Linked DNA regions of Homo sapiens: regions 2, 3 and 4 are each reported to be linked to region 1. The links are microRNA targets in miRTarBase. Many come from high-throughput screens and were not tested one by one. Region 1 holds a microRNA gene; each other region holds the end of a gene's coding sequence.

Region 1 (3,126 bases):
AGAGTCTAGCAATACAGCTAGTCAACAAAAACAAAACCATAATTATAGCCAAGCGGTGATAAGAGCATAGATGGGAACAGAAGCACAGGGAGTACAGAGTGAGGCAGGCACTATTGTGGGCAAGTGAACAAAGGAGTGGAGAGTGAGGGCAGGCGCCATCTTGGACAAGTGGAGGAGGGAGGAAATGAGAGACAGGGCAGGCACCATCTTGGCCGGGTGGACAAGGAAGGAAATGAGAGAGAGGGCAGACACCATCTTGGCCGAGTGGACAAGGAAGGAAATGAGAGAGAGGGCAGGCACCATCTTGGACAGGTGGACAAGGGAGGGAATGAGAGGGCAGGTACTGTCTTGGACAAGTGAACAAGGAAGAGGGTGGGGAGTGAGAGCAGGTGCCATTTTGGACGAGTAGAGAAGGAAGGCCTTGAGTGGAGACCTGAATGAGCTGAGGAAGGACGTGGACTCCCCCACCTCAGAAAACTCCTTTCTGTACTCTGGCCTAAGCTTTCCTTGTCTTTTAGATCTCAGCTTAGATGCCTCTTCTCCTTCCCTGGTCCCCACACCCAACAGGGCCCCTTCTAGGTACATGCTTATAGCTTTGTGTCATAATTGCTATTGCTATTTACTCTCTTAGGACACTGTGAGCCTTCTGAGGATCACGTGACCTGGTACAGGGCCCGGTGCACTGAGATACCCAGCCTGTGCAAAGGGAAGGCATGCATGAATGGAGGGACTCATTAATATGGACCCAGATGGGCAGGTGCTGGCTGGAGGGCATGGCTCCCCAGAGTCCAGGGCTTTGGTGGCAACCTGAATGGAGAATCCAACATCAGGGCCCCAAATCTCCAGCATCCTCTTTATTACATCACAACACTTCTAATCACATACTTGCTGCCTTCTCTACTTGAGATGACTCTGGATTCTGGACCCAGAGCTCAGGCTGTTACAATGACCGTACATCTCAAGTGAGAGAATGGGGACATGGCTGTCAGATGATCATGGTGGGTGCAATGGGAAGTCTGGAAAATGTCATTTGGATGCTGAAATACTGAAATTCCCAAGAGGTTTCAATGTATATAGAAGTGATAGAAGAATATTTGGAAACAAGACACCTTCAAAAAATTGAAAACATATGATAACCATAATCACGGGATGCAAAGCATCAATTTCAAGGATGTCTCTGGCCCATGGCCCATGCTTACCATGCATTGAGCAAAGTCATGGCCTGCAGGGCTCCTATGGTCTCCCCAGTAGGGACCACATTGATCTCAGGAACTGAAAAGTGCCCTCAAGGGAGAAAAAGAACTAGAGAGCACCTGGGCGAGGCTGCACAAGGCACCACTCCACCCAGACCCCAGTGTCGGTTCATTAAGCATGGAGGCCTGTTCCTCACCACCTGTCCCCAGATCCCCTAGACTCAGGGCTTCCCCCCATGGTGGAGGGCCGCCTGCCCACAGGGTCAACAGATGCTGCCTGCCCCAGCAGGGTCAACACAAATCTGAAAGCCACACCTTCTCCCCTGGACTCACCCAAATCAGAGGCCACATTTTGTTGTAGCTCCACTTCACAGAGCATGGCCCTAAGCTGTGGATTTTGCATCCTTTTCTCCCCACCCAACAAAATCTCAGCTCTGTTACCACCTCTCTGGGAAACCACAGGCTGAGGTCTGACTTGCTTATGATGTAGGCTGCCCTGATTCAGGAACTCAGAGTCTAAATTCAGAAACTTGTGTCTCTGGCCTCCTTTACCCCTGAAGAGGTATAGGGGAGGCAGGCAGGCAGGAGCCTTTCCCAGAGCTGAGCAATGAGGCCACCTCCAGCAACACACTTGGGGAATCACCAACGCCCTCCAACAGTGACTACCCTCTAGCCTGAGAAGGACGTCATCATTTAAGAGGTTTGGGTTTCTGTGGGCAGAGGGTTTAAATGCTGCTTTTTCCCGGCAGTTTCTGCCCCAGGTCAAAGCTTTCCCACCAAGCCACCAACCACCACTGGGAAATGCTCTTGCCCCACAATGTGTCAGCCCCGACTTAATCAGAAGTGGTGACTGAGAGGCAGCCTCAGCCTGGTCCGTGACTTCCCCAAGACTCTTCCTGTCAGTCCAGGGAGTTTTTTCCTCAGATGCCCCCCAGGAGGGTCCCTGCAGGGGGAACGGGGCTACTGGAGTCAGGGAGATGCCTCTCTCTGCACGTGGCAGTGGAGGAAAATGGGAGACAGGGATTCTTGATTGTGTGAAATTCAGAGACTCCTAGGCTCCAAAGCAAGAGCAGATGCTCCAGGTAGAGGGCAAAGGGCAAGAGAGCTGGTGATGAGCAATGGGACCCCAGGCTTTCGAGGTTGCAGCCACGTCCCCTAGTAACTGCCCTTCAATGACTGCGAGGCACCTTCACCTCCTCCTTGGCATCATACCACATTGAGCCCTGGAAAACCCTTCCTGAGCAAATGAGGATCAGCAACCCGGAAGAAAACCCTGCCCCATACCACTCCCGTGTGGGTATCTGATTTGCACCCCTCAGGTGAGGGCGTTAGGTGCAGAGACTATCACACTTTTCCTCTTGTTCTGGATCCCTAACCTGCAGACTGGGGTCTACCTGTCCATGCCTTCATGGTTTGCAAGTTAAGAGGATGGTACTGGCTACAAGGCTGGTCCCTACCAGCTCTGTGCAGGAATGGCACCGGCACATAGCATCACTTGGCTGGAAAACCCAAGCTGAAGGGAAACACCAAGAGCTATTCCTTACTAAAAACAAGGAGAGGCTGTTCTTGACAGCTTATTCCAATCCCCATCCCACAAGGCTTTGGCAGAGCTTTTTCTTGTAATGCCCACCCCTGCCCCCCATAGCAGAGACACCCAGATATCCACAGGGCTCATCTCTGTTCATCTTTTCCCTGCTTCCCCAGAACTGGGGACCACAAGCCCGAGATGGAGCAGGGACTTAGGGGCTGCTAGGCCCCCAAACATGGAAATAAAAGAAAATCTTGAGTATCTTCAAGGGAAATTCTAGGCTAGCCCCAAGAAGTAAATGAGCAACTTGGTAAGAAAGAAAGAAATAGTAGCTTAAAGCAATAGTCAAAGAAGTTAGAGTCAACCTCTGATGACTCTCTATAGAAACTAAAGAGAACATCTTAA
Region 2 (3,000 bases), not on the chromosome of region 1:
TCCCTTAAACATCATTTTTAACAAGGGCTCCCAACTTGAGAAATATTCGTCAAAGTCTACACACTAAGTACCTAGAACCTCTCACAGATCTACTTCACTATCTGCTTCAAGTCTGTGGACGTTATTCCTTTCCTGGTGGGGCAGGGAAGGAAGGAGAGCAATTGGCCTCTGCTGGGGATCCCCTAAGTCTTTTCTGCAGTGTCCAGGAGGACCAGGAAGGAGTTGAGGGAACCTTCTGACCAGCTTCCTCACAAAGCACTCACTAGCCTGGCCTAGGTAGTTGCTCTCAAGGAGGTTTGATGGAGCTGTTAGGCCAAGGGTTATCTGTTCATATTCTTCCCACTCCCAAGGTTGAATTGGGGTAAAATCACAGGCAAGAGCTGATAAAGACATAGAACTTGAACGAAAAAAGCTATTGAGAGGTGAGCAATGCCCTCCTCCTTTCTCATTTTGTCTGCTTCAACATGAACGCCAGGATTCAGTGAAATATTCAGGAGGCGGCCAGTTTAGATGATCCGATCAACCTTGCTTGCTAGGTGGCCTTGGGAAGAGTCTGCTGCATTGTGGACGGGATGGCCGTGCGAAGTGCAGCTGGTAACTGGTTATACACTTTAGCTAAGATCAACAGTTTTGAAGGAAGCCACCAGAGGGGCTGGTGTAATACTCGATGACTATTCGTGTGTCGGAATGAGAAAAGGGTTGTTTGTTTGTTTCCTTGCTTTTTAATGGTTCTTAGATGTGGTCAGCACGTACAGCATTCCGTTATCAGAATACAAGATTCTTGCTGAGACGGATCCCTTAAGCTGACAGGAAAATTAGCATAGCTTCCTGCTCCTTCTCTGTCCTGCTTCCCTCGGCCAAAATCCCACACCATCCCTCCGAAGTAAAGGCTGCAGCTTTATTTACACAATACTAAATGATTTATCCGAACACATGCAGGCCTTGGCCTGTTTCGATAAGTGCAATTTCTCTGGTGGATTCTGCCATTCTGCATTTCCTCTCTAAACCATAATGGTTTTCTTCTGAGTTGGGAAAAATATCAAGCACTACATCCAGGTGATATTGATCCACGGGCACAGGTGGTTAGCATTTTTGATGAAGAGAACAGGTTTGCTTTTCAAGGATTCAAAGCTTCTAATTATATTCCAAAGATAGTACGGACCAGTAAGTGCCTATGAAGTCTTGAGAAAAACATTCTGCTTTGTGACTGGGGGGAAACGACCTCAGCTTGGGCAACTTTTAAGCCTGATCACAAATGAGCTCATTTTGAACGCAATTCCTGGTTACCTCAGACAGAAAGAAATGAAAGAAAAAAATCACAAAGCATATTAGAAGTTTGAATACATAGTGAATTCAAGAAAGGCTTGCTAACATTTGTTAGTTAAAAACCCAAGCCATTCCTTTTGGAACAATCTGCCATCCTCTATTCTTTTAAAGGAGGTTAGGGAACGTTTTCCGTGAAGTTTATCTCTGGTGGACCCTCCTATAGGACTCTCCCATATTTATAATCACATTTGAAATTTCACACTGATGGAGTCATGTTCTTGCTCTTACTGAAATATTCATGGTCTCTTTACATACTGGAATGTATGTGGAGAGAACCTTGTCAGACCTTTTGCAAGTATGAGGACTGCTTTTGGCAGTGCAGATATTAAAACCGAAAGGATACAGAGATGCTTACACAGGTCAGGGAAGACGAGGTCACAATTAAATCCTGTACCAGGGCTCACTTTGCCAGCAGATTCTGGGGAGTATGGGATTTGGGGAAGGCAAGAAAATATTTCTTGTAGCCAGTAATCAAAGTTGTGAACAGTGAATACTGGGCAGGCTCAGCAAAAAAAATATCTTTGGGTTAAAAAAAAAATTATGCAATAGAAAAACAGGGAAAGTGCTAAGTCAATTTCCTGTACAACCGACATTAAATACCGACCTTTACAATGAAAGCACTCAGGCAGGTTGATGACTATATTCATGAGGCCTGTGTAGGAACAGGGCTGGCTTGCTGGACGGGGTCACTGACTCCATCCCCTGCTTTTTGCTGCATTTTTATCCTCAGACATCACAGAAGAGCTTTTCAGCAACAAGAGGCGGGTGACAAACAGAAGCTCTCGTGACTGACTCATCATGTCCTCTCCCAAACCACGGCCCTTGACACGTCCAGAGGGCTAGGAGTGTCACTGGGGCTATTTTGGCTAGTTGATGACATTAGCAAAAAGGTAAATAAACATTCACCTTCCCCTCTAAAAAACGAATCTGGGTGAAGACAAACCTCGAAAAGGAAACCAACCCACATGCAAACAGGAATAGAAAATATTTTTACACTCTTTGCACTTCAGCCCAACGGCGGTGAGGGAGAGAGAGGGTCACCTGGGGCCTGTCAGCGCAACAGAATGATTCATGTGACCATTTTGTCTTAATTACTCAGAACAAGCTGTTGTTGCTGTTTATCAAGGGAGAGCAGATACATCAGTGTCTTCTGACAGAAAAAGTGATCGCCATCAGGATGGTGATGACCACGATGATCCCTAGGATGACGAGCAGGATGCGGTTCTGGATGATTCTAGGAGACAGCAAAGGAGAAAAAACACACACAGATAAGTGGAAGGCCTTCCCACAAACGCCGTCCGAGGCCAGGTTGGCTAATCAAACGGCAGCTTTGCAGGTGGGGGTGGGGAGCGTGTGTGTGTGTGTGTGTGTGTGTGTGTGTGTGCGCGCGCGAAAGAGACATCACGCAGCTTTCTGGTTCTACAAACGATCCACGAGGAAACGAAAGGCTCCACATGATTGTCACGCTGCCCTCCGAGAAATGCTTACTGCAAAGCTAAGGCGAATCAAATGGCTTTCGAGGCTCAGAAAATCATGTAGCCTCTTTAAGTGATCAAGGGCCCCTTGCGAGCTTCTCTTTCTAATTTAAAAGGCGAGACAAGCCTCATTTTTTGCAGTGTTTCCTGTTAAAGTAAAATACTCCAAGGAAACACATGTCAGCAATGTACTTACCTG
Region 3 (3,126 bases), not on the chromosome of region 1:
GCCGAGGGTGGACAGCAATCAGATTCTGAAAGTGGAGCTGACAAGATGCGCTGATCTGGAATGTGAGGTGTGATAGAAGAAAGGCAGAAGGGTTGACCACAGCGTTTGAGGCCTAATCCAGCTATCCCCAGTTGAGGTGGGGAAGGAGAGCATCATCATCCCTGGACCTCATACTATGCAGTTCTCCATTTTATCTGTAATCTGCACCACCACCCTGAGGCAGAGCTTTCATTAATCCCACTTCACAGATAGAGAAATCCCGACTCAGAGAGGTGGAGTAACTTGCCCAAGGTCACACAGCCAGTAAGTGGCAGAGCCTGGATTCCAACTTTAGTCTTACCAACTCCAAAATCGGTATCTGTTCTGATGCACCAGGAAAAGCAAGGTTTGGGGCCCTAGGAGCAGGTTAGGTGGGAGAGGCAGTTCCTGGAGGAGAGGCACATTCCAGTAACCACAGAGGCCCCTGGAATGCCTGCAAAGAAAGTTCTCAGCATCCTACTCCGTGTTCCTAATCACCTCCTCCTTAAACCTGTTTCTGATCCATCAGCTGGCAGATCTCAGCTGTAATCATGGGGAAATGCTTTTGTCATCTCTTAAGTTTTCTTAATTCACTGACAAGGTAATAACGCCTCAGTCCATTATACACATTTTCTAAAGGACTTTCAACATTAGAATGCAAAGCAGGCTTCTCTGGCTTAGAAAAACCTGAGACTCCTGGGATTTAATCATCAAACAGATTTAGCCCCTAAATCTGTTTGATGATTAACATCAAACATTTCGTAAGAAAAAAACAAATGGTAGTGCGGCCAGCATGTCCAGGCCACCCAAATATGCCCAATTTCTCCCCTAAATAAACTCATTGCATTTAAACTGATATGAACTGATGGTCCCAGATGCATTCACTCAACAGGTTTAGTATCCAAATGAGTCTGCCACCATCACAGTAATCCATATGACTTGGTTGATATTTTTTTAATTATCATTATGGATTGAAAAGCCTTAGCCCATGATTTGGGATGTCCAATCCTATGTAGTTTACTTAGAACAGCTCATGCCACGTTCTGTGGCTGTGCCTACTTGGAGCCTGGGAGAAAGCGACACAACAGTGGAAGCCTAGGACTTGTGAATCTTTTACCATCTTGGAGCTTTGCTCTTTCCACACCATACCCCTTCAATACCACAACAAAAACCTGGGAAGCCAAGCTAAACAACCCTTGTCCTTTCCAGTCTTCCTCTAGCTCTCTGCTCTTGGTAAAACCTACCAGTAGGAGCAGATATTTGATCTGTCATAGAAGCTGTGATATTACACTCCCCAGATGTTTAACTCACTGGACTGAAGGCTCAAGTTACAGCTAATCAGGGCCTCTCTACACTACAGACCCCATGCCCCCCCACCCTCCCACCCCCAAGGAACAGGATCCTCGGCCCATGTGGCCAACTGAGATGGAGTAAGTAGGACCTACATTGGGCAGGGGATTCACTAAAATGGCTCCTGTAGGGTCTCTACACCAGTGGCTTAGAAGGCATGTGCTCTCAAAGCCCTCTGGGTCCATTCAGACTGAAGGATGCCTCCCCACAGTCCTCAAACACCTGTATCTCCTTGCCCCAGGGCCTACTTCCTTTCCTTACCAAGAGTTTAAAGAAAGTCTGCAGGAACCTAGAAACATTTCATAAGAAAAACACAAATGGCAATGTGGCCAGCGTGTCCAGGCCACCCAAATGTGCCTGATTTCTCCCCCAAATAAACTGTGGCTTCACTTTACTACTATATGAGGGAGACTAAGGTTACAAATTCAGCATAAATTTTTTTTTTTCCTGTTATCCAAATAAGGTCAGGAGCAAGAGACATACTATGGAGGAGAAGGTGATCAAGGCCTGCATCATGCCCACAGAAATACAATAAAGCCCTCACCCTTTCCTGTGTAAAAGATCCTTCTTGCCCAGAGAACTGGGTAATATTGTGCACTTGGCTTTGTAAAAATGTGTCACTGCAGGAAATTAGACCCCAAGACCAAAACCAGGCTGTAGCAAACTTTGAACTGAACCCAACCCCACCAGGGAGCTCTTCCCTGAGACCATGAGAGCTGCTGGCTGTGGTGGTCCCTGAGGTCAGGCCAGAAAATGGCAGGGAGAATGGTTAGTGCCTGGTGGATGCCTTCCTGCCCTGGAGGGGTGACTGGAGATAGAGACTGGGTTCCCATTCCCAGGGAAGAACTAGAGGGACCTGAGGGGTCATCCAGTCCAACCCCCTCACTTGAAGGCAGGGCAACTGAGGCCTGGTGAGGGTAGGATCACAGTTTAGTCAGTGGGGGTACTGGGGGTCACTCTGGTGCTGACTTCTCCCCTCATCATGAAGCCACCTCCCCCACCTTAGATGATCAGGGCTGAAAGGGACCCCTCCACGGCCAATCAACACCCTCACTCAGCCAATAAGGACAGCAGAGGTCCCTCACTCCCCAAGGCATGAGGGAAGAGGATGGGCAACCTTTCAAACAGCTCCCAATCTTGAGAAATGCCAAGAAACCTCATCCTCCAAGAGCAGCGGTTTCCAAACTTTTGTATTTTTAGCAGCAGAAGCCATCCTCCAAACAAAACCGTATGCAAAACCTCAGCTACAAAACAGATCAGTGGGCTGCTTGCCCGTGTGGGGCATGGGCTGGGCCCCGAGCTCTCCCTCCAGCACCCAGTACTTCTTCCACAAGGCCCTATGTGAGCTCAGTTTAAAACCCCAGGGCCTTGGCAGGGGTCAGGTGGGCGGGAGCAGGGGGTGGACCTTGTAGCACTGGAGCTAAAGCAGCCAGATAAGGTGGGCTAGTTCTTAAGACCTCTGGAGGGTGTGGCTAGTCTCTGAGACCTGGACAACTTCATTCTCCACCAGGGCCTGGCCCCCATCCCCATTGAGCTGTCTCATGCGCAGGTTAATGGAGCCGTAGGTCTTCCTGGAGCCCTTGCCGGGGACGAAGGTCCTCCGGCGGTACAGCTCGCCCTTGCACAGGGAGACCATGAGCAGCACCGACAAGAGCATGCCGCCCACCGTGAGCAGCCCGAGGCCTGCGATGATGCACCTGTCCAGGTGGGAGCCTAGGCGGGCGTAGTACATCTCCAGTCGTTCCATCTCCCGCGCTG
Region 4 (3,126 bases), not on the chromosome of region 1:
ATTACTTGCCTTATTTGGGAGCGTTCACAAGCTGTTTGGTAGTTAGCCACTAATGAGCATGGTGTATTGAGCTGAGCAAGCTGTGGGTATTGGAATTTAACCTTTTTTTAAAATACGCACAACATTAAAAATCCTGTTTTTTCCCCTAGATTATTTGCAGGTGTCTTCCCTCGAATGGCAGCCATCAGTCTGGGAGGTTTCATCTTTCTGGGGGCTTATGACCGAACGCACAGCTTGCTGTTGGAAGTTGGCAGAAAGAGTCCTTGAAGCAGAGACAAGCCTCACCTCCACTTCTGTCAAGAGAGGGGCCTGCAGTGCAAACCCTCTTCCGCTGAGCAGCTGTCTGAACTATAGGCCCCAGTGCTGAAGACCAGTTGTGCTAAGATACCGGCATGGAGATTGTGCCATCCGTGGTATAGGCTGGCTGGTATGAAGTCATTGGCCTGTATGCCAGAGAGCTAAGAGAAGAAAACGGGGTCTGTGGCGGTACTCTGAACAATTTCCTCAGAACCTCTTAATAAATAAGTTTGGTAATGCTGAGGCCAGGCCTTTTAGAGCTTTCATTTGATCTGTATCTGATCTTTCATTTCCTGCCACCTGATGGTGGATTCAGCAGAAGGCAAGATGGTTATAATTCTAAAAGAATAGCTTGTTTGTTTGTTTGGGAAAAGGAGACTTGGGGAAGAGTTGTGTATGTGGGTGTTTCTCCCCCTAGTTAATTCCTGTTGTGTAAGGGTAGGCTTTGTTGAAAAAGAAAGAAAGATTGAACTACAGGTGCATAGCAAGCACTCTTTCTGGGTAACTAGGCTGCTGGTTTTAATTACCCTCAGATTTCACCCATAAAAACGCACAATTGTATTATTTTACAGAGATGTGTCCAGCGCCCCCTGTGGTGTGTGAGAGAAAGCAGCTGCAACTCAAGTGACTAGGTGGGCCCAGCTGGCTTCGTGCAGGAGGGCACGGTGGGTGAGCCATTCTCGCCATTCTCATGTCAGACTGAAAGGAGGGCCTGGGCCAGCTTTGAAAAGGCAGGATGAAATGGAAAGGTCACCACACTTAGGGATTTTAGACCTTGACTAACAAGCTCCAGGTGTAGAAAAATTCAAAACAAAATGTCAGGAATCTAGCAGTGTTGTCTGCCCTGGAGCAAACAAACAGTATGTGATTTTGCTTCGCCTATTTTTTTTTTCTTTTTTGGGGGAAGATAATTAAAGGCAGAATGACTGCGTTTGTAAAAGAAGGACCACCAACTATACTGACATTTATAAATGAACCTTTATTAAAGACACTTCAATGCCATTTGTTAGACACTTCAATATTTTACATGGTTTTCAATGTACACTGTACCAAAATTTCTATAAATAAATAACTTTGTACATAAAAGTAATACTCCCTCTTTCACATTGCCTCTCAGAAGCAGCAAATTCACATATTTTGTGGAAGTAAGATTAGTCAGTTAACTGTCAAGAACAAAATTCTAAATGTGCTTACCTTTTGAACAGTGATGACACCTGACAGTAATTGTTAACTATTTTCTCAGTAACTCCCTTCAGCTTTTGGCCAAAGGAACATTTGAAGGACCTTGTTTCTATTTAAGTTTTACTAAATGACACATTGGCACTCATAAGATGGTTAGCTACCAGTCTCAAAAGTGCAAATTATACCCAGAACCCAGGTCAAGGGCTGTCCTTTCCAGTCCCAGCTCAGTTTCATCTGTGCGAAGGAATGGCATGGACAGGCCTGCTCTGGGTCCTTAGTAGAAATAAGGTAGCCCTGAAAAGTCAGAACTTCCTCCTTTCTGTCCCCCAAGGCCAATGTAATACTCATTATATTGGCAAAACGAAAACATCAGTATAGAAAAATCCACAGGTACCAACACCAGCAGCCTTTACCTTAATTTAAAAGTCTCAAATAGCAATCGAATGATACTGAGAAGGCCACATTTGCTTTTATCATAAAATAAGAGGAGGAGGAAAGGCAGTGTTTAACTGTTCTGACCTTTTGCTTGTGATGGATTAACAACCCTCATTCTACGCCTTACAGACGGACAGATTCTACGCCTTACAGACAGACAGGACTTAAACCTAAAAGGAAAAGCCATTCACTGCAAGTGTGGATGGCACTTGCACCCCTGGCTCTACAGACAGGGAAGCCTGTTGCAGGGGCATCCACACATGAGCAGTGCTCACCTGAAGCTCCTTCCGGCGCATGTGGAGTCCCACCGCACAGCAGCCTAGGGGTCTATGAAGTGCAATATAAATCCAAGGCCTTCCATCCTTCCCACCCCGCACCAAAAACTCCTGTGAACAAATGTGGTTGTAGCCTCTATAAATTCCAGCCATGCGTTAAGGCACCAGAACTATTTCCCCACCCCCTCCAAAATTAAACAGCAACCTGATACGAAAAATAATATTGTCAAAATTGTATAATTTTTTTCTGTTAACCATGCACTAAAGATTAAAATAGCCTCTGTAAAAGATATATATGAAATCTCTGAAAACTCTTATGTACAATGATATCAAATACTTTTTTTGCCTTTTGTACACAAATCCCCTCTTGCGTTTACTGTGCTTCAGATCCAAGTCCTGTGAGCGACTGATACTCCACATGGGAGTTACAACTATGTACAGATGAGTGACGCTTGAACCCAAGCTTCCTCGCAGCCTCTCCTACCTCTCTTTCCCGTAGAGATTGGTATGACAAGAACTGAGGTAGACAAAACCTAGCTTTTTGGTGCCAACAGCAGTGGCACCCTCTGTTTCCCGGGGAGCTGTCCTGTCAGTGGCGTGGACTCGGGACTGGCGTCACATGCTTTGGGGAGGTGGCCATTGGAAACAAGCAAGTACTGGGCTTCCGCGCGCTCTGGACTGCCTGAAGTTAATGAAGATGCAGGCTGTAGCTCTGTGGAGTCCGGGTGATACAACCTTGCTAAAGTCCAGGAAGAATCCCCTACAAGGAAAGAACGAACCTGTCAGACCCCCACTTGACCGTTTAAGCAGCTCCCAACCCACCTGTTAGAAGACAGTCAAAAGTTACCTTTCCCATCTAGAGATGCCATTGGCTTTTTCTTCACAGCCGTCAGCATTCTATCGTGGTTACTGGGGTAGAGCGACCCTTGGCACTCGG

What was found. The annotated mature microRNA hsa-miR-4287 reads UCUCCCUUGAGGGCACUUU and lies in region 1 at 1,277-1,295, opposite strand. An mRNA with a match to its seed (bases 2 to 7 or 8) in the 3' UTR can be bound and repressed. Matches are read on the target gene's strand: a 7mer-m8 pairs with bases 2 to 8, a 7mer-A1 pairs with bases 2 to 7 and ends in A, and an 8mer does both.
Region 2: the mRNA of VTI1A is a reported target of hsa-miR-4287. The part of its 3' UTR that is shown has no 7-base or 8-base seed match.
Region 3: miRTarBase lists TMEM74B as a target of hsa-miR-4287. Seed matches in the 3' UTR shown: 7mer-A1 at 2,670-2,676.
Region 4: the mRNA of LRIG1 is a reported target of hsa-miR-4287. Seed matches in the 3' UTR shown: 7mer-m8 at 1,544-1,550.

What each region holds. Positions count from the first base shown.
Region 1 is chr8:27,884,812-27,887,937 of GRCh38, forward strand. It overlaps MIR4287 (microRNA 4287), which reads right to left and starts at 1,305; the gene lies at 1,228-1,305. All of the region lies in intron 7 of SCARA5 (scavenger receptor class A member 5), which reads right to left.
Region 2 is chr10:112,814,850-112,817,849 of GRCh38, reverse strand. It overlaps VTI1A (vesicle transport through interaction with t-SNAREs 1A), which reads right to left. Exons shown (of 8, transcript NM_145206.4): 8 at 1-2,560. The coding sequence ends at 2,467. Among named protein-coding and RNA genes, the nearest start is that of LINC02935, 75 kb to the left of the region's middle.
Region 3 is chr20:1,178,030-1,181,155 of GRCh38, forward strand. TMEM74B (transmembrane protein 74B) reads right to left here. Exons shown (of 3, transcript NM_001304748.2): 3 at 2,541-3,126. The coding sequence ends at 2,819. It overlaps LOC124904855 (a long non-coding RNA gene), which reads left to right. Exons shown (of 2, transcript XR_007067486.1): 2 at 1-1,923. Among named protein-coding and RNA genes, the nearest start is that of TMEM74B, 5.4 kb to the right of the region's middle.
Region 4 is chr3:66,377,541-66,380,666 of GRCh38, forward strand. It overlaps LRIG1 (leucine rich repeats and immunoglobulin like domains 1), which reads right to left. Exons shown (of 19, transcript NM_015541.3): 18 at 3,037-3,126; 19 at 1,257-2,949. The coding sequence ends at 2,723. It overlaps SLC25A26 (solute carrier family 25 member 26), which reads left to right. Exons shown (of 10, transcript NM_001379210.1): 10 at 150-1,383. The coding sequence ends at 267. Among named protein-coding and RNA genes, the nearest start is that of LRIG1, 120 kb to the right of the region's middle.